4 separate regions of the Homo sapiens genome follow, and all the other regions are reported to be linked to region 4. Evidence: microRNA targets listed by miRTarBase, many of them from high-throughput screens and not tested one by one. Region 4 holds a microRNA gene; each other region holds the end of a gene's coding sequence.

What was found. The annotated mature microRNA hsa-miR-7153-3p reads CACCAUGGACGGUUUACC and lies in region 4 at 5,425-5,442, shown strand. An mRNA with a match to its seed (bases 2 to 7 or 8) in the 3' UTR can be bound and repressed. Matches are read on the target gene's strand: a 7mer-m8 pairs with bases 2 to 8, a 7mer-A1 pairs with bases 2 to 7 and ends in A, and an 8mer does both.
Region 1: the mRNA of RLN2 is a reported target of hsa-miR-7153-3p. The part of its 3' UTR that is shown has no 7-base or 8-base seed match.
Region 2: miRTarBase lists XKR9 as a target of hsa-miR-7153-3p. Seed matches in the 3' UTR shown: 7mer-m8 at 2,181-2,187 and 7mer-m8 at 2,667-2,673.
Region 3: miRTarBase lists FOXN3 as a target of hsa-miR-7153-3p. Seed matches in the 3' UTR shown: 7mer-m8 at 1,173-1,179.

What each region holds. Positions count from the first base shown.
Region 1 is chr9:5,293,564-5,301,311 of GRCh38, reverse strand. RLN2 (relaxin 2) reads left to right here. Exons shown (of 2, transcript NM_134441.3): 2 at 868-1,448. The coding sequence ends at 1,214. Among named protein-coding and RNA genes, the nearest start is that of RLN2, 7.3 kb to the left of the region's middle. RefSeq lists an enhancer at 7,516-7,748.
Region 2 is chr8:70,733,155-70,740,902 of GRCh38, forward strand. XKR9 (XK related 9) reads left to right here. Exons shown (of 5, transcript NM_001011720.2): 5 at 642-2,788. The coding sequence ends at 1,270. Among named protein-coding and RNA genes, the nearest start is that of XKR9, 68 kb to the left of the region's middle.
Region 3 is chr14:89,155,586-89,163,333 of GRCh38, forward strand. FOXN3 (forkhead box N3) reads right to left here. Exons shown (of 6, transcript NM_005197.4): 6 at 592-7,384. The coding sequence ends at 6,829. Among named protein-coding and RNA genes, the nearest start is that of TRA-AGC15-1, 180 kb to the left of the region's middle.
Region 4 is chr18:11,652,579-11,660,326 of GRCh38, reverse strand. It overlaps MIR7153 (microRNA 7153), which reads left to right and starts at 5,386; the gene lies at 5,386-5,442. RefSeq lists a cis regulatory region at 2,491 and an enhancer at 2,407-2,576.

The sequences.
Region 1 (7,748 bases), not on the chromosome of region 4:
GGTGTCCAGCAGGTTCCCAGCCCAAGTCCCAGCCTTCACATTTGGCCAGCCTGGGATGCTGTGTAAGAACAGGCTCCCTTCCTAGGAGACACACAGATCTTGCATAGTGCATGATCTGCAGCTTTGGAACAAATATCAAACAGAAAACATTAGTCAGTACACATACTCCACAGCAGATACAAATCTCTTCTTAAATCAGTGATTTTTGGTTAGTGTTCTTTTAACCCACTTCTCTCTTTCATATAAAATACTATTGTTTTGGAGTAAATACTCTGGGGAAGACAAATTGTTAAATAGATGGTTAAGGAACATCAGAGACTTCTTTCTCCTGCTGATTAGATCAGAGGTGTTGGAAATTCTGCCTCTTTAACTTTATCCTCCAGGAGTAACTTCCCACCATGAAATATTCAATAGCTTAAAGTAATATCTTTTTCAAGGGTTACTATTACAACTCATAATATCATAAATCATAGCAATGGAAGAAAATGACTTAACTAAGAAGAATCCAAGAAAATGACCACTAGCTGTGGTCAAACTGTTTTCAGTGACTTACATGACTTCAGAAAGATGACAGATTAATGTCAGGGAGAGTCAAAAGTACTATGATAAAAGCACTGAGGGGATCATGAAGAGAGACGAGAGAGGACCAATGGGGTAAAGCAGAGCCTTGGTAAAATTATGGTACTTTAAGGTGTCCAACTGTAAGTAAGCTAAGTGTTTAGATATTAGGATGCTTGCTTATTTTGTTTCAATGTTTAATTTATACTGAGGCAATGCTTTTTTGTCTATGCAAACATTCATAGTTTTTCTGAGTGCTCTTTGACATGAATATACCCTCACATACACCTTTTTTTTTAAATTTAACAGAAATTGTGCCATCCTTCATCAACAAAGATACAGAAACCATAAATATGATGTCAGAATTTGTTGCTAATTTGCCACAGGAGCTGAAGTTAACCCTGTCTGAGATGCAGCCAGCATTACCACAGCTACAACAACATGTACCTGTATTAAAAGATTCCAGTCTTCTCTTTGAAGAATTTAAGAAACTTATTCGCAATAGACAAAGTGAAGCCGCAGACAGCAGTCCTTCAGAATTAAAATACTTAGGCTTGGATACTCATTCTCGAAAAAAGAGACAACTCTACAGTGCATTGGCTAATAAATGTTGCCATGTTGGTTGTACCAAAAGATCTCTTGCTAGATTTTGCTGAGATGAAGCTAATTGTGCACATCTCGTATAATATTCACACATATTCTTAATGACATTTCACTGATGCTTCTATCAGGTCCCATCAATTCTTAGAATATCTAAGAATCTTTGTTAGATATTAGGTCCCATCAATTCTTAGAATATCTAAACATCTTTGTTGATGTTTAGATTTTTTTATTTGATGTGTAAGAAAATGTTCTTTGTGTGATTAAATGACACATTTTTTTGCTGAAAAGCCTTTTTGTCTTTTTATTAACAGCATGATTATGTTGTGTTATTCTTTTTAATGCTGTTAACTTAAAATTACAATAAAACCTCTACCGCTTTAACCATACGTAGTAACAATACAGTTGTTACAATACCTAACACCATATAGTAGTAACAATACCTAACACCAGTTACATGAAATGGACCAAAATGTTTTATTGATATTAACTCTTAGATTGGATATAGATAAAGCCATAAAACTTGACCTTTCCTAATAGATTACAAAAGGTTTTTGTGTCATATTGAAATACTCATTGCAAACAATCGGATTGGACACTAAACCAATGTAATTTAGTTAAGACCATATAAACTCAAACGCTTTTTTTTCCTTTTTAATTTCCTTTTTTTCTAGTATAGTCTGAAGGGAACTCAAGTACTTTTCAAGCTAGGGTTCTGTTCTCAGTTCCAGTGTCTAAGAAACTTAAAAGTAAATTATTTTTTAAGGATAAAAAGGAATAGACATAATATAGAACAGAACAAACAAGTCCATATCATATATTACAGAAGAAATAGTATAATGAAGGAACATAATTTATGTTCACTTCTTTAGAATTTGCAAACTATTTCTGTAAGCAAAATTACTGAAATAGTATGAACACTTGTTAGAAAAGTAAACTGACGTAGTTATCAACTTAGTATTTTACTGGTTCTGTCTATTTTTTTTCTTTTTTAAAAATTATACTTTAAGTTCTTGGTTACATGTGCAGAACGTGCAGGTTTGTTACATAGATATACATGTTCCATGGTGGTTTGCTTCACCCATCAACCCATCACCTACAGTAGGTATTTCTCCAATGCTATCCCTCCCCTAGCCCCCCACCCCCAAACAGGCCACGGTGTGTGATATTCCCCTCCCTGTGTCCATGTGTTCTCATTGTTCAACTCCCATTTATGAGTGAGAACATGTGGTGTTTGGTTTTCTGATCTTGTGATAGTTTGCTGAGAATGATGGTTTCCAGCTTCATCCATGACCCTGCAAAGGACATAAACTCATCCTTTTTTATGGCTGCATAGTATTCCATGGTGTATATGTGCCACGTTTTCTTAATCCAGTCTATCATTGATGGACATTTGGGTTGGTTCCAAGTCTTTGCTATTGTGAATAGTGACGCAATAAACACATGTGCAAATGTCTTTATTGTAGAATGATTTATAATCCTTTGGGCATATGCCCAGTAATGGGATTGCTGGGTCAAATGGTATTTCTAGTTCTAGATCCTGGAGGAATCACCACACTGTCTTCCACAGTGGTTGAACTAATTTACACTCCCACCAACAGTGTAAAAGCATTCCTACTTATCCACAGCCTCTCCAGCATCAGTTGTTTCCTGACATTTTAATGATCGCCATTCTAACTGGCATGAGATGGTATCTCATTGTGGTTTTGATTTGCATTTCTCTAATGACCTGTGATGATGAGTATTTTTTCATGTCTGTTGGCTGCATAAATGTCTTCTTTTGAGAAGTATCTGTTCATATCCTTTGCCCACTTTTTGATGGGGTTTTTTTTTTTGTGAAGTTGTTTAAGTTCTTGGTAGATTCTGGATATTAGGCCTTTGTCAGATGGACAGATTGCAAAAATTTTCTCCCATTCTGTATGTTGCCTGTTCACTCTGATGATAGTTTCATTTGCTGTCCAGAAGCTCTTTAGTTTAATGTGATCCCTTTTGTCAATTTTAGCTTTTGTTGCCATTGCTTTTGGTGTTTCAGTCATGAAGTCTTTGCCCATGCATATGTCCTGAATGGAATTGCCCAGGTTTTCTTCTAGGATTTTTATGGCCCTAGGTCTTACGTTTAAGTCTTTAATCCGTCTTGAGTTGATTTTTGTATAAGGTAAGGAAGGGGTCCAGTTTCAGTTTTCTCCATATGGCTAGCCAGTTTTCCAAACACCATTTATTAAATAGGGAATTCTTTCCCCATTGCTTGTTTTTGTCAGGTTTGTTGAAGATCAGATGGTTCTAGATGTGTGGTTTATTTCTGAGGCCTCCATTCTGTTCCATTCATCTATATATCTGTTTTGGTACCAGTACCATGTTGTTTTGGTTATTGTAGCCTTGTAGTATAGTTTGAAGTCAGATAGTGCGATGCCTCCAGTTTTGTCCTTGTTGCCCAGGATTGTCTTGGCTATGCGGGCTCTTTTTTGGTTCCATATGAAGTTTAAAGTAGTTTTTTCCAATTCTGTGAAGAAAGTCAATGGTAGCTTGATGGGGATAGCATTGAATGTATAAATTTCTTTGGGCAATATGGCCATTGTCATGATATTGATTCTTTGTATCCACGAGCATGGAATGCTTTTCCATTTGTTTGTATCCTCTCTTATATCCTTGAGCAGTGGTTTGTAGTTCTCTTTGAACAGGTACTTCACCTCCCTTGTAAGTTGTATTCCTAGGTATTTTATTTTCTTAGTAGCAATTGTGAATGGGAGTTTACTCATGATTTGGCTCTCTGTTTGTCTGTTATTGGTGTATACGAATGCTTGTGATTTTTGCACATTGATTTTGTATCCTGAGACGTTGCTGAAGTTGCTTATCAGCTTAAGGGGTTTTTGGGCTGAAACAATGGGGTTTTCTAAATATACAGTCACGTCATCTGCCAACAGAGACAATTTGACTTCCTCTCTTCCTGTTCGAATACCTGTACTGCTTTCTCTTGCCTGATTGCCCTGGCCAGAACTTCCAGTACTGTGTTAAATAGGAGTGATGAGTGAAGGCATCCTTGTCTTGTGCCAGTTTTCAAAGGGAATGCTTCCAGCTCTTGCCAATTCAGTATGATATTGGCTGTGGGTTTGTCATAAATAGCTCCTATTATTTTGAGATATGTTCTATCAATACCTGTTTATTGAGTTTTTAGCATGAAGTGGTGTTGAATTCTATTGAAGGCCTTTTCTGCATCTATTGAGATAATCGTGTGGTTTTTGTCATTGGTTCTGTTTATGTGATGGATTATGTTTATTGATTTGTGTATGTTGAACCAGCCTTGCATCCCAGGTATGAAGCCAACTTGGTCATGGTGGATAAGCTTTTTGATGTGCTGCTGGATTCAGTTTGCCAGTATTTTATTGAGGATTTTCTCATTGATGTTCATTAGGGATATTGGCCTGCAATTTCCTTTTTTTGTTGTATCTCTGCCAGGTTTTGGTATCAGGATGATGCTGTCTTCATAAAATGAGTTAGGGAGGATTCTTTCTTTTTCTATTGTTTGGAATAGTTTCAGAAGGAATGGTACCAGCTCCTCTTTGTACCTCTGCTAGAATTTGGCTGTGAATCCATCTGGTCCTGGACTTCTTTTGGTTGGTAAGCTATTAATTACTGCCTCAATTTCTGACCTTGTTATTGGTTTATTCAGGGGTTCAACTTCTTTCTGGCTTAGACTTGGGAGGGTGTTTGTGTCCAGTTATTTATCCATTTCTTCTAGATTTTCTAGTTTATTTGTGTGGAAGTGTTTATAGTATTCTCTGATGGTAGTTTGTATTTCTGTGAGATCAGTGGTGATATCCCCTATGTCATTTTTTATTGTGTCTATTTGATTCTTCTCTATTTCTTCTTTATTAGTCTGGCTAGCGGTCTATCTATTTTGTTGAGTTTTTTCAAAAAACCAGCTCCTGGATTCATTGATTTTTTGAAGGGTGTTTCATGTCTCTATCTCCTTCAGTTCTGCTCTGATGTTAGTTATTTCATGTCTTCTGCTAGCTTTTGAATTTGTTTGCTGTTGCTTCTCTAGTTCTTTTATTTTTAATATTAGGATATCAATTTTAGATCTTTCCTGCTTTCTCTTGTGGGCATTTAGTGCTATAAATTTCCCTCTACACACTGCTTTAAATGTGTCCCAGAGAGTCTGTTACTTTGTGTCTTCATTCTCATTGGTTTCAAAGAACATTTTTATTTCTGCCTTCATTTCATTATTTACTCAGTAGTCATTCAGGAGCAGATTGTTCAGTTTTTTTGTAATTGTGTGGTTTTGAGTGAGTTTCTTAATCCTGAGTTCTAATTTGATTGCACTGTGGTCTGAGAGACTGTTTGTTATGATTTCCATTCTTTTCTATTGGCTGAGGAGTGTTTTACTTCCAATTATGTGGTCAATTTTAGAATAACTGCGATGAGGTGCTGAGAAGAATGTGTATTCTTTTGATTTGGGGTGCAGAGTTCTGTAGATGTCTATTAGGTCCGCTTGGTCCAGAGCTGAGTTCAAGTCCTGAATATCCTTGTTAATTTTCTGTCTTGTTGGTCTGTCTAATATTGACAGTGGGGTGTTAAAGTCTCCCACTATTATTGTGTGGGAGTCTAAGTCTCTTTGCGGGTCTCTAAAAACTTGCTTTATGAATCTGGGTTCTTCTGTATTGGATACATATATATTTAGGATAGTTAGCTCTTCTTGGTGAATTGATCCCTTTACCATTATGCAATGCCCTTCTTTGTCTCTTTTGATCTTTGTTGGTTTAAAGTCTGTTTTATCAGAGATTAGGATTGCAACTCCTGCTTTTTTTTTTTTTTTGCTTTCCATTTGCTTGGTAAATATTCCTCCATCCCTTTATTTTGAGCCTATGTGTGTCTTTGCACGTCAGATGGGTCTCCTGAAGACAGCACACTGATGGGTCTTGACTCTTTATCCAATTTGCCAGTCTGTGTCTTTTAATTGGGGCATTTAGCCCATTTACATTTAAGATTAATATTGTTATGTGTGAATTTGATCCTGTCATTATGATGCTAGCTGGTTGTTTTGCCTGTTAGTTGATGCAGTTTCTTCATAGCATCGATGTTCTTTATAATTTGTCATGTTTTTGCAGTGGCTGGTACCAGTTGTTCCTTTCCATGTTTAGTGCTGCCTTCAGGAATTCTTGTAAGGCAGGTCTGGTGGTGACAAAATCCCTCAGCATCTGCTTGTCTGTAAAGGATTTTATTTCTCCCTCCTTTATGAAGCTTAGTTTGGCTGGATATGAAATTATGGTTTGAAAATTCTTTTCTTTGAGAACGTCGAATATTGGTCCCTACTCTTTACTGGCTTGTAGGGTTTCTGCAGAGAGATCCACTGTTAGTCTGATGGGTCTCCCTTTGTGGGTAACCTGACCTTTCTCTCTGGCTGCCCCAATATTTCTCTCTGGCTGCCCTTAACATTTTTTCCTTCATTTCAACCTAGGTGAATCTGACAGTTATGTGTCTTGGGGTTGCTCTTCTCAAGGAGTATTTTGTGGTGGTCTCTGTATTTCCTGAATTTGAATGTTGGCCTGTCTTGCTAGGTTGGGGAAGTTCTGGATAATATCCTGAGATGTGTTTTCCAACTTGGTTCCATTCTCCCCTTCACTTTTAGGTACACCAATCAGACGTAGATTTTGTCTTTTCACATAGTCCCATATTTCTTGAAGACTTTGTTCATTCCTTTTTATTCTTTTTTCTCTAATCTTGTCTTCTCTCTTTATTTCAATGAGTTAATCTTCAATTACTGATATCCTTTCTTCCATTTGATCAATTCAGCTATTGGTACTTGTGTATTCTTCACAAAGTTCTCGTGCTGTGTTTTTCAGCTTCATCAGGTCATTTATGTTCTTCTCTACATTGATTATTCCAGTTAGCAATTCAACTAACCTTTATTCAAGGCTCTTAGCTTCCTTGTATTGAGTTAGAACATGCTCCTTTAGCTTGGAGGAGTTTGTTATTACCCACCTTCTGAAGCCTACTTCTATCAGTTTGTCAAACTCATTCTCCATCCAGTTTTGTTCCTTGCTGGCAAGGAGTTGTGATCCTTTGGATGAGGAGAGGCATTCTGGTTTTTGGAATTTTCAGCCTTTTGCACTGGTTTTTCCCCATCTTTGTGGATTTATCTACCTTTGGTCTTTGATATTAGCGACCTTCAGATGGGGTCTTTGAGTGGGTGTGCTAATCCTTTCTGTTTATTTCTTTTCCTTCTAACAGTCAGGCCCCCTCTGCTGCCAGTCTGCTGGAGTTTGCTGGAGGTCCACTCCCAGTCCTGTTTGCCTGGGTATCACCAGCAGAGACTGCAGAGCAGCAAAGATTACTGCCTGTTCTTTCCTCTGGAAGTTTCGACCCAGAGGGGCACCTCCCAGATGCCAGCCAGAGGTCTCCTGTATGAGATGTCTGTTGGCCCCTATTGGGAGGTGTGTCCCAGTCAGTATACATAGGGGTCAGGGACCCACTTGAGGAGGCAGTCTGACCCTTAGCAGAGCTTGAACGCTGTGCTGGGAAGTCCACTGCTCTCTTCAGAGCCATCAGGCAGGGATGTTTAAGTATGCTATAAGCCCCTGACTGGGGCTGCT
Region 2 (7,748 bases), not on the chromosome of region 4:
TTATTTGCTGAGAAAAAATGGGGTATAGATATCAATCCTACAGAAAGTTGTAAGTTTTAGAACATACTCATTCACTTGTTTCAATATCTTCAGGATATGGGAAGTTGGGCTTGTTTAATATCTCATATTAAATTTTCTGTTTAACCCTCTTTCTCTCTCTCTACCCCTCCTCCTCTCCTTCCCTTACCCCTGCTTGAAGCTATTATCTCTTAGTGAATTGGGTGTATGCCTAAAATCACAGTCAAAACATCTAGAAAAACTAGGATTATAACTGTAGTCTCTTAACTCACAGAGTATGCTTTTTTCAGTATATCAGTTGCTCAATAAAATTTGTCCCATGAATTTTTAAAAAATCATAATAAAACAGTCTAATATAGTGGATAAATCTATCCACTTTGGAATCAGGTTCAAATCTCAGTTCTGCAACTTACTAGCTTTGCAACTTGGGTCAAGCAGTGTATCTCTCCAAGTCTCAGTTCCCCCATACATAATAATATCTACTTCAAAAGATTAGATGAGAAGAGTAAAGTATGTGACGTGTTTGTGGGTGTGTGTATATAGATATAGCATGTATGGGATATAGTAATCTAATATTTCTATTATTCCTATAACAATATATTTTTTATTTTTTTGTTTTGTAGATGCGGCCATCATGGTCTCTTGCTGTGCTATTTCTTGGTCAACTGTTGATTATCAAGTAGCTTTAAGAAAATCCTTGCCTGACAAAAAGCTTCTTAATGGATTATGTCCCAAAATCACATATCTCTTTTACAAGTTGTTTACATTATTATCGTGGATGCTGAGTGTTGTACTTCTACTATTCTTAAATGTTAAGATTGCTTTATTTCTGTTGTTATTTCTTTGGTTGTTAGGTATAATATGGGCATTTAAAAACAACACCCAGTTTTGTACTTGTATAAGTATGGAATTCTTATATAGGATTGTTGTTGGATTCATTCTTATCTTTACATTTTTTAATATTAAGGGACAGAATACCAAGTGTCCAATGTCTTGTTATTATATTGTTAGGGTACTGGGCACTTTGGGGATATTGACTGTATTCTGGGTTTGCCCCCTCACTATTTTTAATCCAGACTATTTTATACCTATCAGTATAACTATAGTTCTTACTCTTCTTCTTGGAATTCTTTTTCTTATTGTTTATTATGGGAGTTTTCACCCAAACAGAAGTGCAGAAACAAAATGTGATGAAATTGATGGAAAACCAGTTCTAAGAGAATGTAGAATGAGATATTTCCTAATGGAATAAGCTATTCATTTATGATATATATTTTCTTATATTTTGTTTCATTGGTTAGTAAAGAAAATGTGTGTTATGTGGGTGTGTTGTCTCTTATTTTTGCCACCTTTAATTTGAAATTAGTTCAGTGAAATAGGAGATACATAGTAGTATTTTATTTTTAAAATTAATTTCTCATTTGGTTTTGAAGATCTTGAGTACTCAGATATCTTTCTACTGCCTGGTAGAGCTGCCATCTTGAGCCTGAAATATAAGAAATGGTCTGGTTTTCATAATGAGAAGGCTGGAATTGAGCTTCCCTCCCATTTTCCTTGTTCCTGAACTAATACTACTGTACCTGTTATGGAGGACTGCAAAGGGAAGAGAAAAGCAGAACACTGTATTATTTTTTCCTTTATTGTCTTCAGTGCATATATTTGCAGTTGGGGACAGGTTGAGTAGAGGAAAAGGGAAAGAAGGGAAAGCAGAAAACAAATTTTTAGCATCTGCTGTGCTTTCATCCATGAAATCTCCAATTCAGTAAGTGCAAAAGAGAATTGGTGTGCATCTGAGAGGTCTGACATTTCATTATTTACTTATTTCCTAGCTTTTCTGAATTAATGCACTCTTAACATATAATTATATTAATCCTATTTGTGCTAGAATAGTTGTATCTAAATCATATTTTAAAATTATTTTTATTTTTAAAAAATTATGGTAAAAACATATAAAATTTACCATCTTAATCACTTTGAGTGTACAGTTCATCAGTGTTAACTGTATTCACCTTGTGCAACAGATCTCAAGGACTTTTTCACCTTGTAAAACTAAGATTCTCTATTTATTGAACAAATCCCCATTTCCTCCTTCCCCAAGTCTCTCTCAACTGAAATTATAATTTTTTGTTTCTATGAGTTTGAATACTTTAGATACCTTGTTGCCATGGTTTGAATGTGCCCCCCAGATTTCATGTGTGTGAAACTTAATCTCCAAATTTGTATGTTGATGGCATTTGGAAGTGGTGGGGACTTTGTTTATTTATTTATTTTTAATTTTTTAATTTTATATTATTATTATTATTATTATACTTTAAGGTTTAGGGTACATGTGCACAATGTGCAGGTTAGTTACATATGTATACATGTGCCATGCTGGTGTGCTGCACCCATTAACTCGTCATTTATCATTAGGTATATCTCCTAAAGCTATCCCTCCCCCCTCCCCCCACCCCACAACAGTCCCCAGAGTGTGATGATCCCCTTCCTGTGTCCATGTGTTCTCATTGTTCAGTTCCCACCTATGAGTGAGAATATGCAGTGTTTGGTTTTTTGTTCTTGCGATAGTTTACTGAGAATGATGATTTCCAGCTTCATCCATGTCCCTACAAAGGACATGAACTCATCATTTTTTATGGCTGCATAGTATTCCATGGTGTATATGTGCCACATTTTCTTAATCCAGTCTATTGTTGTTGGACATTTGGGTTGGTTCCAAGTCTTTGCTATTGTGAATAGTGCTGCAATAAACATACGTGTGCATGTGTCTTTATAGCAGCATGATTTATAATCCTTTGGGTATATACCCAGTAATGGGATGGCTGGGTCAAATGGTATTTCTAGTTCTAGATCCCTGAGGAATCACCACACTGACTTCCACAATAGTTGAACGAGTTTACAGTCCCAGCAACAGTGTAAAAGTGTTCCTATTTCTCCACATCCTCTCCAGCACCTGTTGTTTCCTGACTTTTTAATGATTGCCATTCTAACTGGTGTGAGATGGTATCTCATTGTGGTTTTGATTTGCATTTCTCTGATGGCCAGTGATGGTGAGCATTTTTTCATGTGTTTTTTGGTTGCATAAATAAATGTCTTCTTTTGAGAAGTGTCTGTTCATGTCCTTCGCCCACTTTTTGATGGGGTTGTTTGTTTTTTCTTGTAAATTTGTTTGAGTTCATTGTAGATTCTGGATATTAGCCCTTTGTCAGATGAGTAGGTTGCGAACATTTTCTCCCATTTTGTAGGTTGCCTGTTCACTCTGATGGTAATTTCTTTTGCTGTGCAGAAGCTCTTTATTTTAATTAGATCCCATTTGTCAATTTTGGCTTTTGTTGCCATTGCTTTTGGTGTTTTAGACATGAATTCTGTGCCCATGCCTATGTCCTGAATGGTAATGCCTAGGTTTTCTTCTAGGGATTTTATGGTTTTAGGTCTAACATTTAAGTCTTTAATCCATCTTGAATTAACTTTTGTATAAGGTGTAAGGAAGGGATCCAGTTTCAGCTTTCTACATATGGCTAGCCAGTTTTCCCAGCACCATTTATTAAATAGGGAATCCTTTCCCCATTGCTTGTTTTTGTCAGGTTTGTCAAAGATCAGATAGTTGTAGATATGCGGCGTTATTTCTGAGGGCTCTGTTCTGTTCCATTGATCTATATCTCTGTTTTGGTACCAGTACCATGCTGTTTTGGTTACTGTAGCCTTGTAGTATAGTTTGAAGTCAGGTAGCGTGATGCCTCCAGCTTTGTTCTTTTGGCTTAGGATTGACTCGGCGATGCGGGCTCTTTTTTGGTTCCATATGAACTTTAAAGTAGTTTTTTCCAATTCTGTGAAGAAAGTCATTGGTAGCTTTATGGGGATGACATTGAATCTATAAATTACCTTCGGCAGTATGGCCATTTTCATGATATTGATTCTTCCTATCCATGAGCATGGAATGTTCTTCCATTTGTTTGTATCCTCTTTTATTTCACTGAGCAGTGGTTTGTAGTTCTCCTTGAAGAGGTCCTTCACATCCCTTGTAAGTTGGATTCCTAAGTATTTTATTCTCTTTGAAGCAATTGTGAATGGGAGTTCACTCATGATTTGGCTCTCTGTTTGTCTGTTATTGGTGTATAAGAATGCTTGTGATTTTTGTACATTGATTTTGTATCCTGAGACTTTGCCGAAGTTGCTTATCAGCTTAAGGAGATTTTGGGCTGAGACAATGGGGTTTTCTAGATATACAATCATGTCATCTGCAAACAGGGACAATTTGACTTCCTCTTTTCCTGATTGAATACCCTTTATTTCCTTCTCCTGCCTAATTGCCCTGGCCAGAACTTCCAACACTATGTTGAATAGGAGTGGTGAGAGAGGGCATCCCTGTCTTGTGCCAGTTTTCAAAGGGAATGCTTCCAGTTTTTGCCCATTCAGTATGATATTGGCTGTGGGTTTGTCATAGATAGCTCTTATTATTTTGAGATACATCCCATCAATACCTAATTTATTGAGAGTTTTTAGCATGAAGCGTTGTTGAATTTTGTCAAAGGCCTTTTCTGCATCTATTGAGATAATCATGTGGTTTTTGTCTTTGGTTCTGTTTATATGCTGGATTACATTTCTTGATTTGCATATATTGAACCAGCCTTGCATCCCAGGGATGAAGCCCACTTGATCATGGTGGATAAGCTTTTTGATGTGCTGCTGGATTCGGTTTGCCAGTATTTTATTGAGGATTTTTGCATCAATGTTCATCAAGGATATTGGTCTAAAATTCTCTTTTTTGGTTGTGTCTCTGCCAGGCTTTGGTATCCGGATGATGCTGGCCTCATAAAATGAGTTAGGGAGGATTCCCTCTTTTTCTATTGAGTGGAATAGTTTCAGAAGGAATGGTACCAGTTCCTCCTTGTACCTCTGGTAGAATTCGGCTGTGAATCCATCTGGTCCTGGACTCTTTTTGGTTGGTAAGCTATTGATTATTGCCACAATTTCAGATCCTGTTATTGGTCTATTCAGAGATTCAACTTCTTCCTGGGTTAGTGTTGGGAGGGTGTATGTGTCAAGGAATTTATCCATTTCTTCTAGATTTTCTAGTTTATTTGTGTAGAGGTGTTTATAGTATTCTCTGATGGTAGTTTGTATTTCTGTGGGATCGGTGGTGATGTCCCCTTTATCATTTTTTATTGTGTCTATTTGATTCTTTTCTCTTTTCTTCTTTATTAGTCTTGCTAGCGGTCTATCAATTTTGTTGATCCTTTCAAAAAATCAGCTCCTGGATTCATTAATTTTTTGAAGGGTTTTTTGTGTCTCTATTTCCTTCAGTTCTGGTCTGATTTTAGTTATTTCTTGCCTTCTGCTACCTTTTGAATGTGTTTGCCCTTGCTTTTCTAGTTCTTTTAATTGTGATGTTAGGGTGTCAATTTTTGATCTTTCCTGCTTTCTCTTGTGGGCATTTAGTGCTATAAATTTCCCTCTATACACTGCCTTGAATGTGTCCCAGAGATTCTGGTATGTTGTGTCTTTGTTCTCGTTGGTTTCAAAGAACATCTTTATTTCTGCCTTCATTTCGTTATGTACCCAGTAGTCATTCAGGAGCAGGTTGTTCAGTTTCCGTGTAGTTGAGTGGTTTTGAGTGAGTTTCTTAATCCTGAGTTCTAGTTTGATTGCACTGTGGTCTGAGAGACAGTTTGTTATAATTTCTGGTGTTTTACATTTGCTGAGGAGAGCTTTACTTCCAAGTATGTGGTCAATTTTGGAATAGGTGTGGTGTGGTACTGAAAGAAATGTATATTCTGTTGATTTGGGGTGGAGAGTTCTGTAGATGTCTATTAGGTCCGCTTGGTGCAGAGCTGAGTTCAATTCCTGGGTATCCTTGTTAACTTTCTGTCTTGTTGATCTGTCTAATGTTGACAATGAGGTGTTAGTCTCCCATTATTATTGTGTGGGAATCTAAGTCTGTTTGTAGGTCACTCAGGACTTGCTTTATGAATCTGGGTGCTCCTGTATTGGGTGTATATATATTTAGGATAGTGAGCTCTTCTTGTTGAATTGATCCCTTTACCATTAAGTAATGGCCTTCTTTGTCTCTTTTGATGTTTGTTGGTTTAAAGTCTCTTTTATCAGAGACTATGATTGCAATCCCTGCCTTTTTTGTTTTCCATTTGCTTGGTACATCTTCCTCCATCCTTTTATTTTGAGCCTATGTGTGTCTCTGCACATGAGATGGGTTTCCTGAATACAGCACACTGATGGGTCTTGACTCTTTATCCAATTTGCCAGTCTGTGTCTTTTAACTGGAGCATTTAGTCCATTTACATTTAAAGTTAATATTGTTATGTGCGAATTTGATCCTGTCATTATGATGTTAGCTGGTTATTTTGCTCATTAGTTGATGCAGTTTCTTCCTAGCCTCGATGGTCTTTACAATTTGGCATGATTTTGCAGTGGCTGGTACCGGTTGTTCCTTTCCATGTTTAGTGCTTCCTTCAGGAGCTCTTTTAGGGCAAGCTTGGTGGTGACAAAATCTCTCAGCATTTGCTTGTCTGTAAAGTATTTTATTTCTCCTTCACTTATTAAGCTTAGTTTGTCTGGATATGAAATTCTGGGTTGAAAATTCTTTTCTTTCAGAATGTTGAATATTGGCCCCCACTCTCTTCTGGCTTGTAGAGTTTCTGCCGAGAGATCCGCCGTTGGTCTGATGGGCTTCCCTTTGTGGGTAACCCAACCTTTCTCTCTGGCTGCCCTTAACATTTTTTCCTTCATTTCAACTTTGGTGAATCTGACAATTATGTGTCTTGGAGTTGCTCTTCTTGAGGAGTATCTTTGTGGCGTTCTCTGTATTTCCTGTATGTGAATGTTGGCCTGCCTTGGTAGACTGGGGAAGTTCTCCTGGATAATATCCTGCAGAGTGTTTTCCAACTTGGTTCCATTCTGCCCGTCACTTTCAGGTACAGCAATCAGATGTAGATTTGGTCTTTTCACATAGTCCCATATTTCTTGGAGGCTTTGTTCGTTTCTTTTTATTCTTTTTTCTCTAAACTTCCCTTCTCGCTTCATTTCATTCATTTCATCTTCCATCACTGATACCCTTTCTTCCAGTTGATCGCATTGGCTCCTGAGTCTTCTGCATTCTTCACGTAGTTCTCGAGCCTTGGTTTTCAGCTCCATCAGCTCCTTTAAGCACTTCTCTGTATTGGTTATTCTAGTTATACATTTGTCTAAATTTTTTTCAAAGTTTTTAACTTCTTTGCCTTTGGTTTGAATTTCCTCCTGTAGCTCGGAGTAGTTTGATCATCTGAAGCCTTCTTCTCTCAACTCGTCAAAGTCATTCTCTGTCCAGCTTTGTTCTGTTGCTGGTGAGGAACTGCGTTCCTTTGGAGGAGAGGTGCTCTGCTTTTTAGAGTTTCCAGTTTTTCTGCTCTGTTTTTTTCCCCATCTTTGTGGTTTTATCTACTTTTGGTCTTTGATGATGGTGATGTACAGATGGGTTTTTGGTGTGGATGTCCTTTCTGTTTGTTAGTTTTCCTTCTGACAGACAGGACCCTCAGCTGCAGGTCTGTTGGAGTTTGCTAGAGGTCCACTCCAGACCCTGTTTGCCTGTGTTCTAGCAGCGGTGGCTGCAGAACAGTGGATTTTCGTGAACCACGAATGCTGCTGTCTGATCGTTCCTCTGAAAGTTTTGTCTCAGAGGAGTACCTGGCCGTGTGAGGTGTCAGTCTGCCCCTCCTGGGGGTTGCCTCCCAGTTAGGCTG
Region 3 (7,748 bases), not on the chromosome of region 4:
ATCCTCTTTCTACTCCTCCAGCACGGTGAGTGGTGCCCTGTGATCCCTTCCTTGTTCCCACTCCCCTCTCTCCCATCAGCTCCTTGTTGGCTCCTGGGGGATGTGTGTGCGAGGGTCTGGGGTGGGCACTTGAGTGATGACGTAATAAACCCTGGCAGATGAAGGTCTTAGGGCTAGGAATGTCATTACAAGAAACCCTCAGGATCTGGGATAGGCTGGCAGGCTCCAGTACTAAAGTACAATTGCAGTTTATTGTTTGACAACTTCCAAATGAAAGGGAAGCTCTGTCTAAACCACAAGTCTTAAGGCTCATGATGGGAGGCTGGCCAGCCACCAGCTACACCAAAGCTGGAATTCTCTTGAGATCCCGGGTAAGCCCAGCTTCCGAATGTGCATTTGTGTTTGCAGAGCAGTGTGTGATGCCCACCCAAGCCTACGCACGTGTGAGGATGGGCACAATAAATGCAGCTGAGAACCCCGAAACCAGACTGCAAAAACTGCACACACGCCTGACCGCAGGTAAGGAACAGAAATGACGTTGTGGACCAGCATCTGCACAGGGAGGCGCAGCACACATAACACTACGTGGTGTTTTTCTTCAATTGATGCAACTCAGTAATTTTTATTGCAACTGGAAGACAATACATCACAGAAACTTTATGGTAGGTCTGGGGAAAAGTGTTATTTACAATAAATGATGAAATAGTTTGTCTTTGGCAATATGATTACATACGAAGAATGCAAAATGCAGGTATGGATGCCTTCCAAGCAACACCAAGTCCCTAGAGTTCGGCTGATCGCGCCTGCCTCCACACTGTTTCTTTAGGTTTACATGAACATAACAGAACATCACGTTCTTTCTCCTTTATGGTTCTCCCTTTCTATTCATGATATTGGCAGTTTCATACAGAAAATACAGAAAAAAAATTGGCTTTTGAAAAATTATTACTCTCGTAAATTAATTTGGCCGTGTAGGTCTATTGGCCAGCCAAGGTCAGACGACCCTAAGCATCAATAGTAAACCTCTTGGTCTTCTGATTGCTTTATCACTTTTTTTTTTTTTCTGTAAAACAAAACAAAACTCAGAAATGTTACAGAATCAGAGTATTAAAAAATGTACAAGTGTATATGCTTCCCAGACACACATGGATACATTTTTCCTCCACATTTTCACCATGGCAGTATTAAGTAGTGAGTGTGAATGACACAGCATGAAACTGGTTACTGAATCAGCTATGAGCTCAGATGGCCTCAACATACATACTCAAGAAATGTTGCATGTTTAAATAACTGAGAGTGTGCTAAATCTCATCTAAAAAAAAGGAGGAGAGGGGCTGGGGAACTCAGGCCACAGTCATGAAAGGATGAATACAATTTCTAGGTTTAATAGGTTCACCATATCGAAGTCTTTGAGAATCCAATATGGAATATCAATTATTTTGCAAAAGGTAGAGAAAGCAGTTCTCAACTTTTGCAAATGAAATACAGTGGAAAAACACTGTTGTATATATTCCAAATAAATAGTCTCGATTTCAATGCTAACAAAACAACAGGAAGGGTACTCGTGAGCATCTCACGGTTAAGTCAGAAATGATCGTTCACACACGTCTGATTTCAGAAGTACAACAGCAAGGTGCAGCACCATAGACACATCGGTTTCGGCTGTTAAAAGATGGATCGTTTTAAAAACTGTGTTTTCCTTCCTTAATTTTTGGTCAGTGAAGCTAGCACTTGTTTGCTGAACTGTGGAAGAACTGCAAGGTCACACACATTATTCATGATAAAGCAACCGAGCTGACGAGTCTGTGCTTAATTCAAGAATAACCAGTAGGAGAGAGAGAAAACACAAGGAGTTAACCACCATCGCCGGTGCTCTCTCAAAGGAAGAGGGGTTAACAGATGAATTCACAAAGGTAGGCAGATCTATACAGAACACTGAATGCCATGTGTAAATCCTCATGAAACTCCAGAAACAGGAACACCACACAATGTATATACTTTGATTTACACATTCCGTTACAAAGGAAAAAAAGACACCATTACAGCTTTGTAACTGTGTTAACTGCAATATAAACCAAGTCCAGAGTTTGGCAGGTAACTAAAAGAGGGTTATCACTTAGGTTATATAGCAAAAGTGTTGATGTATATTATATATAGTAGTATAAATAATAAAAAAGTATTATTTAAATTAGATCACAGTGCTGCATTATGTGCATAACAGTGTTTGATATAGTATTGGTGGGCTGGGACCTACGACACTAAGGACTTAACTGTCAACACTGGGAAGTCACAATCAAGAGGAAACACAGAGTTCCAATGTTTTCTTTTGGTGGCAAAAAAAATCCTGAAGATGAAAGAAAAATACTTCTCTACAGAAACATAAAAATCAATTGCAACATCTGGGCAGCTGTGATCCACCAGAAAGAAACGAGTCCCAACCTGGATTAAAGGGAAAGAGAAATCACATGGAATTTAATCCAATCTCATCTAGAAAAGCTTCCCATTTAGGTCACTTGTACGTAACTCCAATTCCTTCTCCAAGAGCCCTTCCAGGAGAGGCCCAAGGCGCCCCCCACAGAGTGGAATGAGTGGAACTTGCGTCAGTAGCCCTTGGCCTGGGCAGTCCTGGCGTGGTGCAGAACTCTGAGCTGGGCACAGAAGGCCTCCACCTGGTTCTCACTCTACAGAGCCCACTGCCTGATGCTGTCCCTCAGGCAGGAGCCTCCTTCAACACAACGGCCCCTCCCAGAAGGCTCTGTGGTAGTAACTGCTGTGGCCAGCAAGCACTAGACACATTGAATGCCTCTGCAAAACAAAAGAAAACTCTGTTCTTGGGAATCGGCCTCTGGCACATTCCTTCTTAAAAACTCCCAAGATTGAGACCTGCCACAATCGTTTTGGCCATGGTTTTCTCCAACCACCAGTGAAATATGGGTTTGGTTCATTTTAGTTTCAGATAGATGGCTTCACCAAAGAACTCTTGAAAGAATACTGATTAGGGAGGGGCAGGGAAGTAGGAGCTTATGGTATATTATAAGGCTGGGAAAAATCTATGATGCAAACCCTTTCCACATAGTACTAGATAAAGACAAAAGACAATTATAATAGGATAAAAATAACTGTTTATATGTATATCATTTAAGAAAAAAAAGAGTGACTGTCTCTTTCTCTTAAATGTATCCGAGGGCCAATAGCAAGTAATCGTAGACGTCGTGGTGTTGATGTGTTCACGGTTGGTTTCCAAAGCATCTTTAAATATTGCTATAGTTCCCCGTTTCCCCCTCCCCCCTGCCCCGTGTGAGTATGTGAGATACTGGAATGACACATGAACCGCCACTTCTCCCAGCAGGAGAAATGAAAGCAAAAACGCCACACCTCTTAATGGTGTTCAGGCGATCTGTCAGACTAATGGATACATATGCTAGTTTGGAAGCTAAAAGAACACCTGACGTTTGGGAAGGAATTCCAAGACTAAAGTGAATGACACTTAAGCAAAATATTCTTTCACAAATAGGCTTGTGCTTAAATTCTCTACTGCTCTTGGAGGAGGGGATAAGAGAGGGTGCCTCCTGCCCCTTGGCTTGTTAAGGACACGGACAACCTCATTCTCCAATAAATTCACTACAAACAGCCACATACACATTGATACTTTTTGTTTTTGTTCTCAACAATCAAAATACAAAGTTAAACACAATTGAGCCATTGTTTTGGTTATGCATAATGTGTATGCCTCCAAAAACAGAAGAAAAATAGGAAGAAGTACCCTCACTAAAGGTTCCCCGACAAGTCTTCCGGCAGATCCAACGAAGGGAGACTCAGGAAAATCACACTTAGAAAGCTGCCCGATGAGGTATTTATGCAAAAAGAGTGGTTCTGGAGTTAAGAACACACTTTTATATTTCTCTATTTCTCAAAGAGATCAGAAAAGTAAATCACACACATTGCATTTTATTATTTTCTAAAAGAGGCCTCTGCCCCTTTAGAAAAATGAAATGAGGGGAGACAGCCCACGGTGGGGGTTTTAATTGGAAGAAGTCCTCGGCCAGAAACAGTCCTGAATGTTGAACCTCTGCCTTTCAGGAGAGAGGTCTGAATTTTATCATCTGTGGGGTGGGATGAAGGTGGGGGACTGAGCTGGAGGTCTTTAGGCTTGGTCAGGTGACAACACAAATCAAGGTGTCGCTCAGGTTCCATAGCTGTGGATGGCTTTTAGGGTGTCAGATGTCTGGGGAGACGGAGGGAACAGAGCACTGCGAAGATACTTTATTCCCACCTACACCCTGAATAAATATGCTGGAAGTATTCAGCTTCAGGTCATGAATTCGACCTGCTGTAGAGGTGTAGGTTTTTTCAGGTTCTCTCATCAGCAACCCACCGGAAGGTAAGTGTGGGGAATGCACCAGTTAGTTCCCACTGTCCGGGCTGATGGAGCTCTGACATTACCTCGTCCTGGCAGATGGGCTTGGCTTTGGCCCACAGCAGTCCCTTTTTTAAAAGTTAAGGTCATCTCTGTTCCCTCCCTCTCCTCACGCATCATATCCTGAGCCACAGTACTGGGTGTTTTTGTTTTAAAGTTTCCCTCCACTTGGATGGAAGATCATATTCTTTTAGAGATTTCTCTTTGTACCCCCGCCCCCCGCCCCCGCCATTAAAGAAAATTTCTTAGGCAAAGGTAACAACAGGAGTTTCTGGGCTGCATGACGTTGTCTGGTTTCTAAATTCAGCTCTCGCAATCTAGGTGGTCTTAATTCCAGGTTGGTCAGTGTGCTGAAGGTAGCGATGGCCGGCCCCTGCTTCCTATTGCGACATGGCATTGTGGCGATAGGATGTCTGGGGCTGGCCTTTCCTACCTCGGCATCGCTTCCTCCTTCACATGAACCCCATCTCGTCCCCTCACCCAATAAGGCCCATTAGCACGGTTCCCCTTCTTCTGGCTAATTTGCATAATTATTCACTGCCTTTTTCCTAGAACCAAATCATGGTAATGATTTTCTCAAGTAAGCGTCCCATAATTCTCTTGATTCTATCATACACACTCACTACTAAGTTTGCCCTCAAATTATTGCGTCATGTTAAACATGTACAGACAGAGAGAAAGGACACACTTTTCAACAGAGAATCAGAGGGGGTCGGGGCTGAAGTGCACACAAGGCAGTACAGAGTTCAACCATCCAAGCCCTACCAGAGCATGAAGATATTTTTATATTGCAGAGTAAGTTCCCCAACAGTCAGAATTTGTCCCTGAAGAAGGTTAAACCTTAAACACCTGCTTCAAAAAACCAAAACAAAATAACCCGAAAAAAAAACAAAAACAAAAAACAAAAACAAAAACAAAAAGGAAAAAAAGAAAGCAAAGAAAAGGAAAGAAAAAAGAAGAAAACCAAAAGAAACTCTAAGCCTAAGGGCTTAAAAATTACAGGCATAGCCTTTTCTCTATTTTCTATATTTATATGAAAATAATTCATGCTTCATGCTAAATACATTATTTACCTTACAAGAACTTTGTTACTTTTGAATAAAAAAAGTTTGTTTTTGTGATTTTTTTCTCTTTTTCTTTTTTTTCTTCAAAGGAATCCATGCATTGTGGATCAGAAATTTCTGCTGGCTATACTGGCTGAATGTGGAAATCACTGATTTTTGCAAAGATAAATCCTGATATTAATTGCAAACTCCATTTTGAGGGCAGTATAGGAGTTATTTTATTTTTTGCCATGTTTTACTTTTTTTTTTTGTCCATCAGTGTACCTTTAATCTTAAAAATACACCACAATACTAATGGCAGGTTCCGTAGCTTTCTAGTTTTTTTTTTTTTTTCACTTGGATCAAATAGTTTTGATAGACAGAAAAAGATCTGTACCATTATTTCCTTTCCTTAACAGCTATTGTAATTTCCTGGACTTGGTTGCTTTTCACTTGGGCAGTTAAGAAGACACAGCTTGTTTTCCCCATCAGTTTTCTCTCTCTCTCCTTCGTGTGTGTGTGTGTGTGTGTGTGTGTGTGTGTGTGTGTGTGCGTGCGTGCACAGGGCCAATCTTCAGGCTTATGGCTTTTGGAACATTTTCTTAATTTAATAGAGAACAGAATTCAATGATTAGCAACATCACTAAAAATTTACCCCATTTCTTCTCCATGAGTCACTGACACCCGATGCGCATGAACAGTCCAACGTCCACCTCGTAAGATGTCATCGGGCTTCAGGGTTCAGAAGCATCGAGGACTGGTGGCCGGCCCTCTGTGCTCGCCGTGTGACAATTCCAGTGGCTTTCCTGGCACCATCAGATGCCTGGTGCCACAAGCTTGGGTCTGCTCCTAGGGGGACGAGGGGTTCCTCCTCCTCCTCAATTGCTTTATGTGCCTTCACTCAGTGAACCCAATGGGATGGACAACCTGACTTTTTAAACCTAAGGGTTGGGCCTGAACGATGATTACTTTGCCCACGTGCCTTCTAGGTGCCGAATGTGTGTTCCTGTGATATTGACGTTGACATCCCTGCGGATTCAGCCACAGGTTTCTGACAAGCTGGAGGAAGCAATGGTAATTTTGGCTTTTTCGGTTTTGTCTTCAGATAATGAAAAGCTTTTGTAAAACAGCTGAGTGTCAATATGAGTTCTATGGCTTCAATCTCCTTTAAAAATAAAATTCTTAAGGGTCCAAAACAAAGAAGAGGGGGCAAATTAAAACAAAATAAAAGGAAAAGAAAAGAAAGAAAACCAAACCAAAAACAAGAAAAAAGAAAAAAAATTGCTGATATTGCCACAAATCATTAGAAATCTCCTGACATGCTGAAACCAAATGGTCGTAAGTTCAAAACAAATCAGTGACTTGTTTTTAATTTTTTGTGGTTTCCTTTTGCTCTTTCTGCCCCTTTGCCGTCCGATTGGTGATGTTATTCAAACAGGACCGGATCCCTGCTAAGTGCAGGAGGGACCCTGCCGCTTCTTTCATCTCCTCATCATCGCTCTCGGGGGGCTTTTCGGTGCGTCTCTTTTTGAGGGGCAGTGTGTCGCTGGGGACCTTCCTGGCCTTGGCGAAGTGCTGGCGCTTCTTGTGCTGGGATGCGTACCCGCTGTCCCCCAGAGAATCCTTGGGCTCCTTCTGGCTGTGCTTCCTGTCGTCCTCTTCCGTGTCGCTGGGGCTCTCGTGGCTCCGGAAGCTCCCCTCGCTGCCCTCGCTGCCCTCCTGGCTCCCCTTGGTGGCAAACTCATAGTGGTCGTCGGCTGAGGAGGAGGAGGAGGAGATGGAGTCGCTGGTGGGCGAGGTGCTCCGGGCGTTGGAGGACTTGGCACTGCTGTAGTTGTGATCCTCCTTGGGGTCTCCGCTGACCACTGGGGAGCCACAAGATGGCTCACTCTCAGTCCGCATCCGGCAGCTGGTGATGCCATTCCTGCAGAGCGAGGACAGTGGGGAGGGACGGGAGACAAAGAAGGGACACAGTTAGACGTCCTCAGATGGGGGCACCCGGCAGCCCGCCTGCATTCAACCATCAGTCCCTTTGTGTTCAATGGAGCCACTCGCAAACTGTGGGGGCAACAGGTGGATCTGCTTTGAAGGCAGGGTCCTAAATCCTGACACCTCAGTCTCCCCTGCTTATCTCCTATAATGGCAGTTTCACTCCATTTGTGTGGCTGAGACGTCAAAACAACAATCTTCTGAAGCGACAGTGGTGGAGGCTCCATCTCTTACATTAAACCATAAAAATCAAGCTGTGCTTGGTTCGTGTCCCCGCCAACACCACAGAGTCAGACACC
Region 4 (7,748 bases):
AATAATATTAACCTATTACTTCAGAAATGATACATTCAAAGGAAAATAAATCATCTGATTCCAGAGAAATGGGTTACTAGTATCAGCCAATGGGGCTTTCAGGTTTGCTGTACTTTTTAGATGGGGTGTGCATATTTATGTCAGCTGGAAATGTTTGGGGATAATTGTACCTTTTTTCAATGTTAAGTCAGGATCTTCTGGCCATTTTGCCCTTCTCTGAGCACATGGTGAGCCAGACTATTCATGGGAAACAATACTTTGGATAAGGTTTGCCAATTAAATCTCTCTCCACATTTCAATTACTTTCTCTAAGCAAGGTAGACATATGAAATAACTTTTCATTAAATATTGCATCTTGGAATCCTCAATAGGAAGGCAATGAAAAGCTAACCCAGCCCCATCGGATACTGAGCTCTTCCTTGCAATAGTCCTGTCTGTGACTGTCTAGCTTCTGTCTGAACACCTATGAATGACAGAGAACTCTTCCCCCAGGAAGATAATTCCATATGTGTGCTTCTGTCAGGTTGGCTGCATATTGAACCAAAATGTATCTTCTCGTGTTCCTGCTCTCCTACTCTTCAGTTCTAATTCTTTCCTTTAGGGCCACATGGAAGTAAATCCTCATTTTAATCTGGGTTCTCCAGAAATCAAAGCCTGATGCAGAAGGAAGGAGGGGTGGGGATAAAGAAGAGAGATAGGGAGAGAGCTCATATCAGGGAGCTTGGGACTGTGGCTCTGAGAAGCCACACCAACCTCGTTCCGGGGATGCCTCCTCTGCCATGGAAAAAGGGGGATTCCTGGACTGGCTCTCCTCTCCAGTTGGGATGCTAACTCCCCTACCCTTGGACTCATGCACCCCAGGGGTGAGATCACCTGTGGTGTCAACCAGTGACCTCTCCAGCATTGGGGGCAAGAGGCATGTGGCCTCTTTCACACTGTGCCTGCATCAGGCCCATCAGAGCATGCGTTGAGCCTATTTTTTATAGTTCAAACCAGGGCACTTTGAGAGTGAACCGGGGTGGGGGGGCGTCGCAATAATTATGCCAGGGCAACAAGGGTGACTGGGAGTGCTTCCTGGGCAGACTGGGACTTGCAACCATCCTCCTGAGCCCATGAAGAGCTGGACTAAGGATTCATGAGGCCTTGAGGCTCTGAAGAGGTGCATGAGAAGGTGTGATGCAACTCTTGCTCACACAATAGCTGGAGCTGAGGGTTCATTAACTCATTCGGCAAATATTTACTGGCTTGAGAGTGTTAGGACCTGCTCTAGGGTGGAGGGAAGCAATGGTGAGCCCAGCCATGTACAGGCCCAGCCATGTACAAATCACGGAGCTGGTCATTTAGAAAGGCAGATGTCACTTTAAACAAGTAATTACTTAATTACAATTGGGTAGTTGCAATCACACAGTTGGAGAAATGTTATGAATACATAAGAGGATACAAACTTTTCTAAAGATGTTGGCCATCAGAAAAATGTCCCTAAGAGAGAAACATTCAAGTTAAGACTCTAAGGTACGAAAAGAATTGGTCTGGTTGGATTGGATAGAGGAGGAGGGAAGGAGAGATGGAGAAGGGAATTAGGAGGGCAGGAAAGAAGAGGGTTAGAGATACAGCAAACCCATGAAAGAAACCTCCCAGGTCAAAGAAAGCTTGGCACCCAAGAATAAAAAATACAGCCCTGTGTCTGGGGCATGTGTCCCAGAGGAGGACTGGCTGGAGGTGAGACTGCATGGGGCCTGACACCACGCTGAAGATCACGGTTTCAGTGACTTAAAAGTTTGTGGAAGTAATGTTCTCCCAACTAGCTGCTGTTTGGAGCACGGATGGGGGAAAGAAAGCCTGTAGGATGCTCTTGGGAGTGTCAGGCCATGGAAATGATAGTTGCTTTGGTTAGGTTACAGGGAGTAGAGACGGAGAAAAGTGGATGAGGTTGAAATATATTTAGGACACAGAATGGGTAGGACTCAATGCCATGTTGGATGCAAGTGCGGAGGGACAAAGGGATCAAGGATGAGTTTGTCCTCAGCACAAATGACTTTCCCATGGAAGAACCATTTTGTGAAGTGGGATGAGCTTGTGTTGGGGGGAGGCTGACTCTGCACTGGTTTTGGGACCTTCTGAGGTTGAGGCAATGTGAGACCTTCACACGGGGATGTGCAGTTGGGAGTTGATCTGGAGGGCTGGAATTCAGAGCAGAGATTGGGTCGAGAGACGGAAATTTGGCATTGTGAACATGTTTGAAGCCATGGGAGTGGGTGAGACCTTTGAAGAGAGATCACAGAGTGAGAACTGAAGTGAGTTGAAAGCAGGATTTTGATAAATTCCAATGTTCAAACTAGGCTTGGAGAAGGAGCAGGAGCTCTGAAAGGAAACTCAGAAAATGTGGCCAGAGGGTCAGAGGGTAAACAGAGAGTGGTTCCTCAGGAAGCCGGGGAGTGGGTGTTTCAAGAAGCTTAGCGGTGTGCAAGGCTTCCAAGAGCCATGAAGAAACTGAGCAAGATGGCAGGCTTATCATCACGCAAGCCTCTGCTGGCCTAAAGGAGAGTGTTTTAGTGGCTGGATGTCCGACTGGGGGGTGCTGAGGAGTGGGGCTGAGGAAGAGTGGACGGACGGATGGCCAGATGAATCAAAACAAAGCTCCGGTGGGAAGAGAGAGCAAGGAGCTGGAGGGGACCAAATCCTGGGGGGGGGGCTCCCAGGGGCAAAGGAGAGCAGGCACGGATGCCAATGGAGAGGCATTTTGTGAGAAAAGGCTGAGGTTTTATGAGAAAGAGGGAAAAAGGGAGTGGAGTGCCTGAGGAGGCTGGGTGGGCCAGGGCTACTCGGAAGCATCTAGAGAAGTGCTGCCTTTTGATAGGAAGAAAGGGCTCTCGTTTTAGTTTTAAAAAAAAAAAGATGCAGTGAGTGGCATTGCTGCGCACAGGCTCTGGTGAAATGGCGTCAGGATGCGTCAGAATTCCTCACCGGCGTCTTCAGATTTTCTCTGAAGTATTTGAGATAAGATCATCTTCCATAGGGTGGCAGCAACAGTGGGAGGTTTGAGGGAAATGGAAACTGCAAGAAATTGTTACTGTGTGGAGGTGCTGGGGAAGCAGGCATTCGGAGACCTTTATTAGGTTTCATGATATGAAGATGACACAGGAGAGCTCATCAGCTCCAAAGTATTTACAATCGAATTTCCTAAAGAAGTGGACTGGCTGCACAGATTGTGGTCGCTGTCCTTCATGCTTGTGCTGGTATTTAGAGCACAGTGTCTCTGTCTTACCCCCCAAAGCAGCTCTGGACTCAATGTCTAATGAGCATCTGAGATGGCACCCCACCTTTTTAGTTTTGCTGTTTAAAAATAGTTTCACAAATGACTTTCCTCTGCTAGGGAGCAAATGTCAAAACACTTTCTGAGAACTCCCATGACCTGACTGTTGAAGTGACAAAGCCTATATCCCTTAGAACAAAGTAAATTCTGGTGCTTCTTTTTTGGTGTCTGTTTTGTATTGTATCTATTTTTTAGAGATGGGGTCTTTCCATGTTGCCCAGGCTAGAGTGCAGGGGGGGCATGATCATAGCTCATTTTAGCCTCCAACTCCTGCACTCAAGTGATCCTCGCACCTCAGCCTCCCGAGTAGTTGGGCCTACAGGTGGTGCCACCACACCAAGCTCTGTCTGTTGATTGGGATGCAGCTAGGGTGGGGTGAGTGGTAGAGGTAGATTCATTGGCACAGGAAGGCCCCCACACACATGAGACCAGAGGAACTGGCTCCATCCCTGTGTCTGACTTGCCTTTGTTGTAGAAGCAATGGTCCAGCTCCCAGGTCTAGAGGCTTGAGTTTGTTAAAATGTGCTGGACATCCAGACAAATCAGACACTTTTTATGGAAAGCTATATAAAGGACACCATCCTTCCTAACAATACCACAGAGATTCAAGGGATTCAAAAATCGAGAATGAAATCCGTTCCAAAGCACGATACTGATGGCCTAATTTTGGCTTATGTCCTGCTGAGTTACCCCCAGTAGTGGGCCTGAGCCCCTTGGGGGAGGGACAAAGTAAAAGGTGGGTTGGTTGGGGAGAAGTGTTGACCTGGAAGTTGTAGCTGAACTTCAGTAAACTCTTTTATGAGGGGTATAAGCTTTGCACCCTGATTACGTACTAGAAAGATAATTGCTATTCAAACTTAAAAATGGCTACATGTACTATCTTGGTTTCCAGTGCTCCACAATCTGGTTGGAGTCCCATCTATTCTTTCATGCTTAGTTGGAATCTTCTTCCCTAGCTATATTGATTAAATAGGGATGAATCACGCCCTTAACCACGCTCAGAGCACTCCTGAGATAGTATCTTCTTTCCCCTTTGTTATCAGTTCCTCAAAGACAGGAGGATGTCTCTTATGTGTTTATATTCCCAGGGTTTCATACTTAGTACTTTTTTGATGTGCTTACCTCTTTGAAGTTTTAGGGAACTTGCTCAATAATAAAGACTAGACATTGAATTTGCTGTCGAGATGTTCAAAGCTGAGGCTTTTTTTTTTCTTTTGCTGTGATTCCAGAAAATCCTGTCTTCCATCTGTGTTTGGGAGGCAACTGAGCGGTCTCGCCTGGCAGTTTCCTGTTGGGCTTGTTTCTTCAGCGGACCCAGGTCTGGTGTTCCTTCTCTGTCCCTCACCACGACCTCTCTACTATTGAACTTATAAAAGGGGAGATAAGGAGTGTAAACCATTTAGAAAACATATGTTTGATATTTATAGCTACAGAAGATATTTAAGGTGTGATTGATCACACGTGAATTTCCTTCCAAACAACAAACCGAGCTGGGAAAACACTCAGTGGTGTAGACCGCCCCCTGCTGGCCTCGTTCCGAACCCCAGAGCGCGCCGGTGCCATCCCGTCGCGTTGCCGCAGGGAGGGGAGGAGTACCGTGCCCACACCTAGGAATGTATCTTCGTGGAAACCCCATGGCACAGGGTGTTGTGTCCTTTGGAGCCCCTCCTCGCAGCTGTGAGCTATTTACTAATAGCTATCACGTGGGGAGGTTGTGTTGCTTTAAAAATGGAATGATATTTCTGCTTTACAGTTTTCCTAAATCTGGGCATCTAGTGAAGCTGTCCTTCGGGAATTCACGCTCCAGCTGGAAGCCAAAGGGGGAGGGCTGTGTTCTCTGAGGGAGTTGGAGGTCACCCCGTGCTGGCGAAAGGTCTGGGAGTGGAGCTCAGGAGGTCTGCCTTTGACTCCGGCCTCCTTCTCCAAACTGGGGGTTTCCTTGTCAATGGAGTGGTTTGACTAGGTGATTTCTAAGGACCCTTCAGCTGTGTCATGGTGGGCAGCACCGTCCTGCCTTCCTGGAGCTTACATTCCAGCTAGCGTGTTTACTCGAGCTCCTGTGCTCGGTGTGGTGAGAACTGACAAATGTGGTAGGTGGTCGAAGTCATCCACACCATGGACGGTTTACCACTTCTGTGACCGGACCCTGAAGTCGGGATTTGCTGGGAAGCACACAGGTGCACCCATCTCCTTCCAGGTCACTGCCCCAGTCAATTCGTGCTGGCTGAGGCCGTCTGCGCATCCAGCACTCCTTGGTAATTCTTGTATGTCTTCATTCCGCTTTTCCTGCATTAAGCATGGAAGCTCTTTCCAAACTTCTTGGTACCCGGGTCCTTTGATCCTCCTGCCCCTGCTGCTTACTCTCTTAGCAGAAAACCCTACCTCCCTCCTGCAGAAAAGACGCTGTCTGAATTGCTAGCCTTCCCCTCACTACTGGCTGGCTCTCATCAGTGTTGAATTTACCTTTGCCCCAACCAAAAAGCCAAAATACTGGATGCTGCATTTGCCACCTGCATTCCATATCTCATATCTTTCCTTCCCTTCACAGTCAAATTTCTTGAAAGCAGTGTCTACATCCACTGTCTTCCTTTCTTGCCTCGACTTGTTCCCGAAGCCACTGCAGGCTGGCTGACTTCCTCATCTCCACTCCACCGAAACGGCATCATTTCAAGGTCCCCCAGTACCTGCATGTTGCTGAAGCCAGTGGGCACCTAACACTTTTTGTTTGGGGCACTAGACCATTCCCCATGCTCTCGATCAATGCTCCTGGTTTCCCCCTTCATTTCAGCTGCTTATTTCCTGTGGTAAGGGTCCTGCTTGCTTTTTGTCTTCCTTTGCGTTCTTTCCCAGATGTTTTTCGGTTTTGCTCCCCATCCTGCCACCACGGGAGCAGAAGAGGCAGGTGCAGGGATGCAGAAGCACAGCAGGGAGGTGCTTTAGACGGGTTGGCTAGAAGGCCTGTGGAAGAGGGCATTTGGCCTTGCTCATTTCAGAATTCCTGCGAAGAGAGCACAGGGGCAAGGGCCTTCCCTAGATTACAAATGGAAATGAAGCACAAGCTTGAGTGCCAGAGCAGCATCAGCTGCTGTGTGGCGTGGGAAGGGACCCCGACGTCCTAGGGATGCAGGGTAGATCTGAGCTACTTGCTGGGGAGCTTGCCCTAGAAGTCTGCCAAGGTGGGGTTGGAGGGGCCCTGCAGATGAGAGCGGCCAGGTGAGCTGCCTGGACTGGGGGCAGGTGGGATTGCAATGTAACAAGTGGACGCCAAGAGGCCCCACCGCACAGCAGGAGCTGAGGTGGGGTTCGCCAGCAGTGGGAGACAGCCAGGCTCTTTGGGAGGGATGCCCGTACTAAAGGGAAAGTCACATTTCTCAGCTGGATTCCATTTCACTCTCACTTAAGTGGAACCAGCCAATGTGCACCCAGGACAGGATCCAAGGTGGGGACCCATGGAAGGAGCACAGGCCTCCAGCGCTGCGAAGGCATGGGCACCACTCCAGGCCCACATCCTCTTGGAGAAGAGCAAGAGAGTGGAAGAAGCAGGAAACGTTATTTACCCGCCTCAGAAGTCACCCAAGAGCTCGTGAAATTGGGCAGGGACTGTGGTAACATAAAGTTTCAAGTTCAAAGTTTATGTGTCCTTCCTTACTCCCGGTGGAGTGGGCTCATGAGAATATCCAAGTGTTTATAAAGGATAAAGAACCCACATTTTCTTTGCACATCTGGCTGGAAAGTGAGAAATGTATAAATTTTTGAAGAAACTGAAGGGACTGTCATACATCTGTAATAATGATACACGTAAAGTCTGTGGAATAACATGAAAAATCTGTAAGATGTACCATTAAGCGAGCAAAGAATAAAACTTGTGTGTTTGATTTTAACCGTGTAAAATCAAATACTTTTGAGTAAAACCTGGAAAAAACGTGAGGAAAATAAAACCAACTATCACTGTGGTAGGAGTGTAGGTGGATTTTTAAAAAATCCTCTCGTCTTATTTATTAAGAATAAAATAAGGTTGTTAATTCATTTTTTTGATTGTGGTATACTTTAAATTTCTTTCCTGGTGGTGCAGTGTACCCCACTTTTTTTTTCTTTCACTGGAACTAATGTTTCTGTTTGGAAAAGCACACATAGGCCAGGTGCACTTTGGGAGGCTGAGGCGGGTGGATCAGCTGAGGTCAGGAGTTCAAGGGGCCCTCCAGCCTGGCCAACATGTTGAAACCCCAACTGTAGTAAAAATACAAAAAGTTAGCTGGACGTGGTGGTGTGCACCTGTAATTCCAGCTACTTGGGAGACTGAGGCAGGAGAATCACTCGAACCTGGGGGGCGGTGGTTGCAGTGAGCCGACATTGCGTCACTGCATACCAGCCTGGGTGACAGAGCAAGACTCTGTCAAAAAAAAAAAAAAAAAAAAAAAAAGAAAAAAAAGGAAAA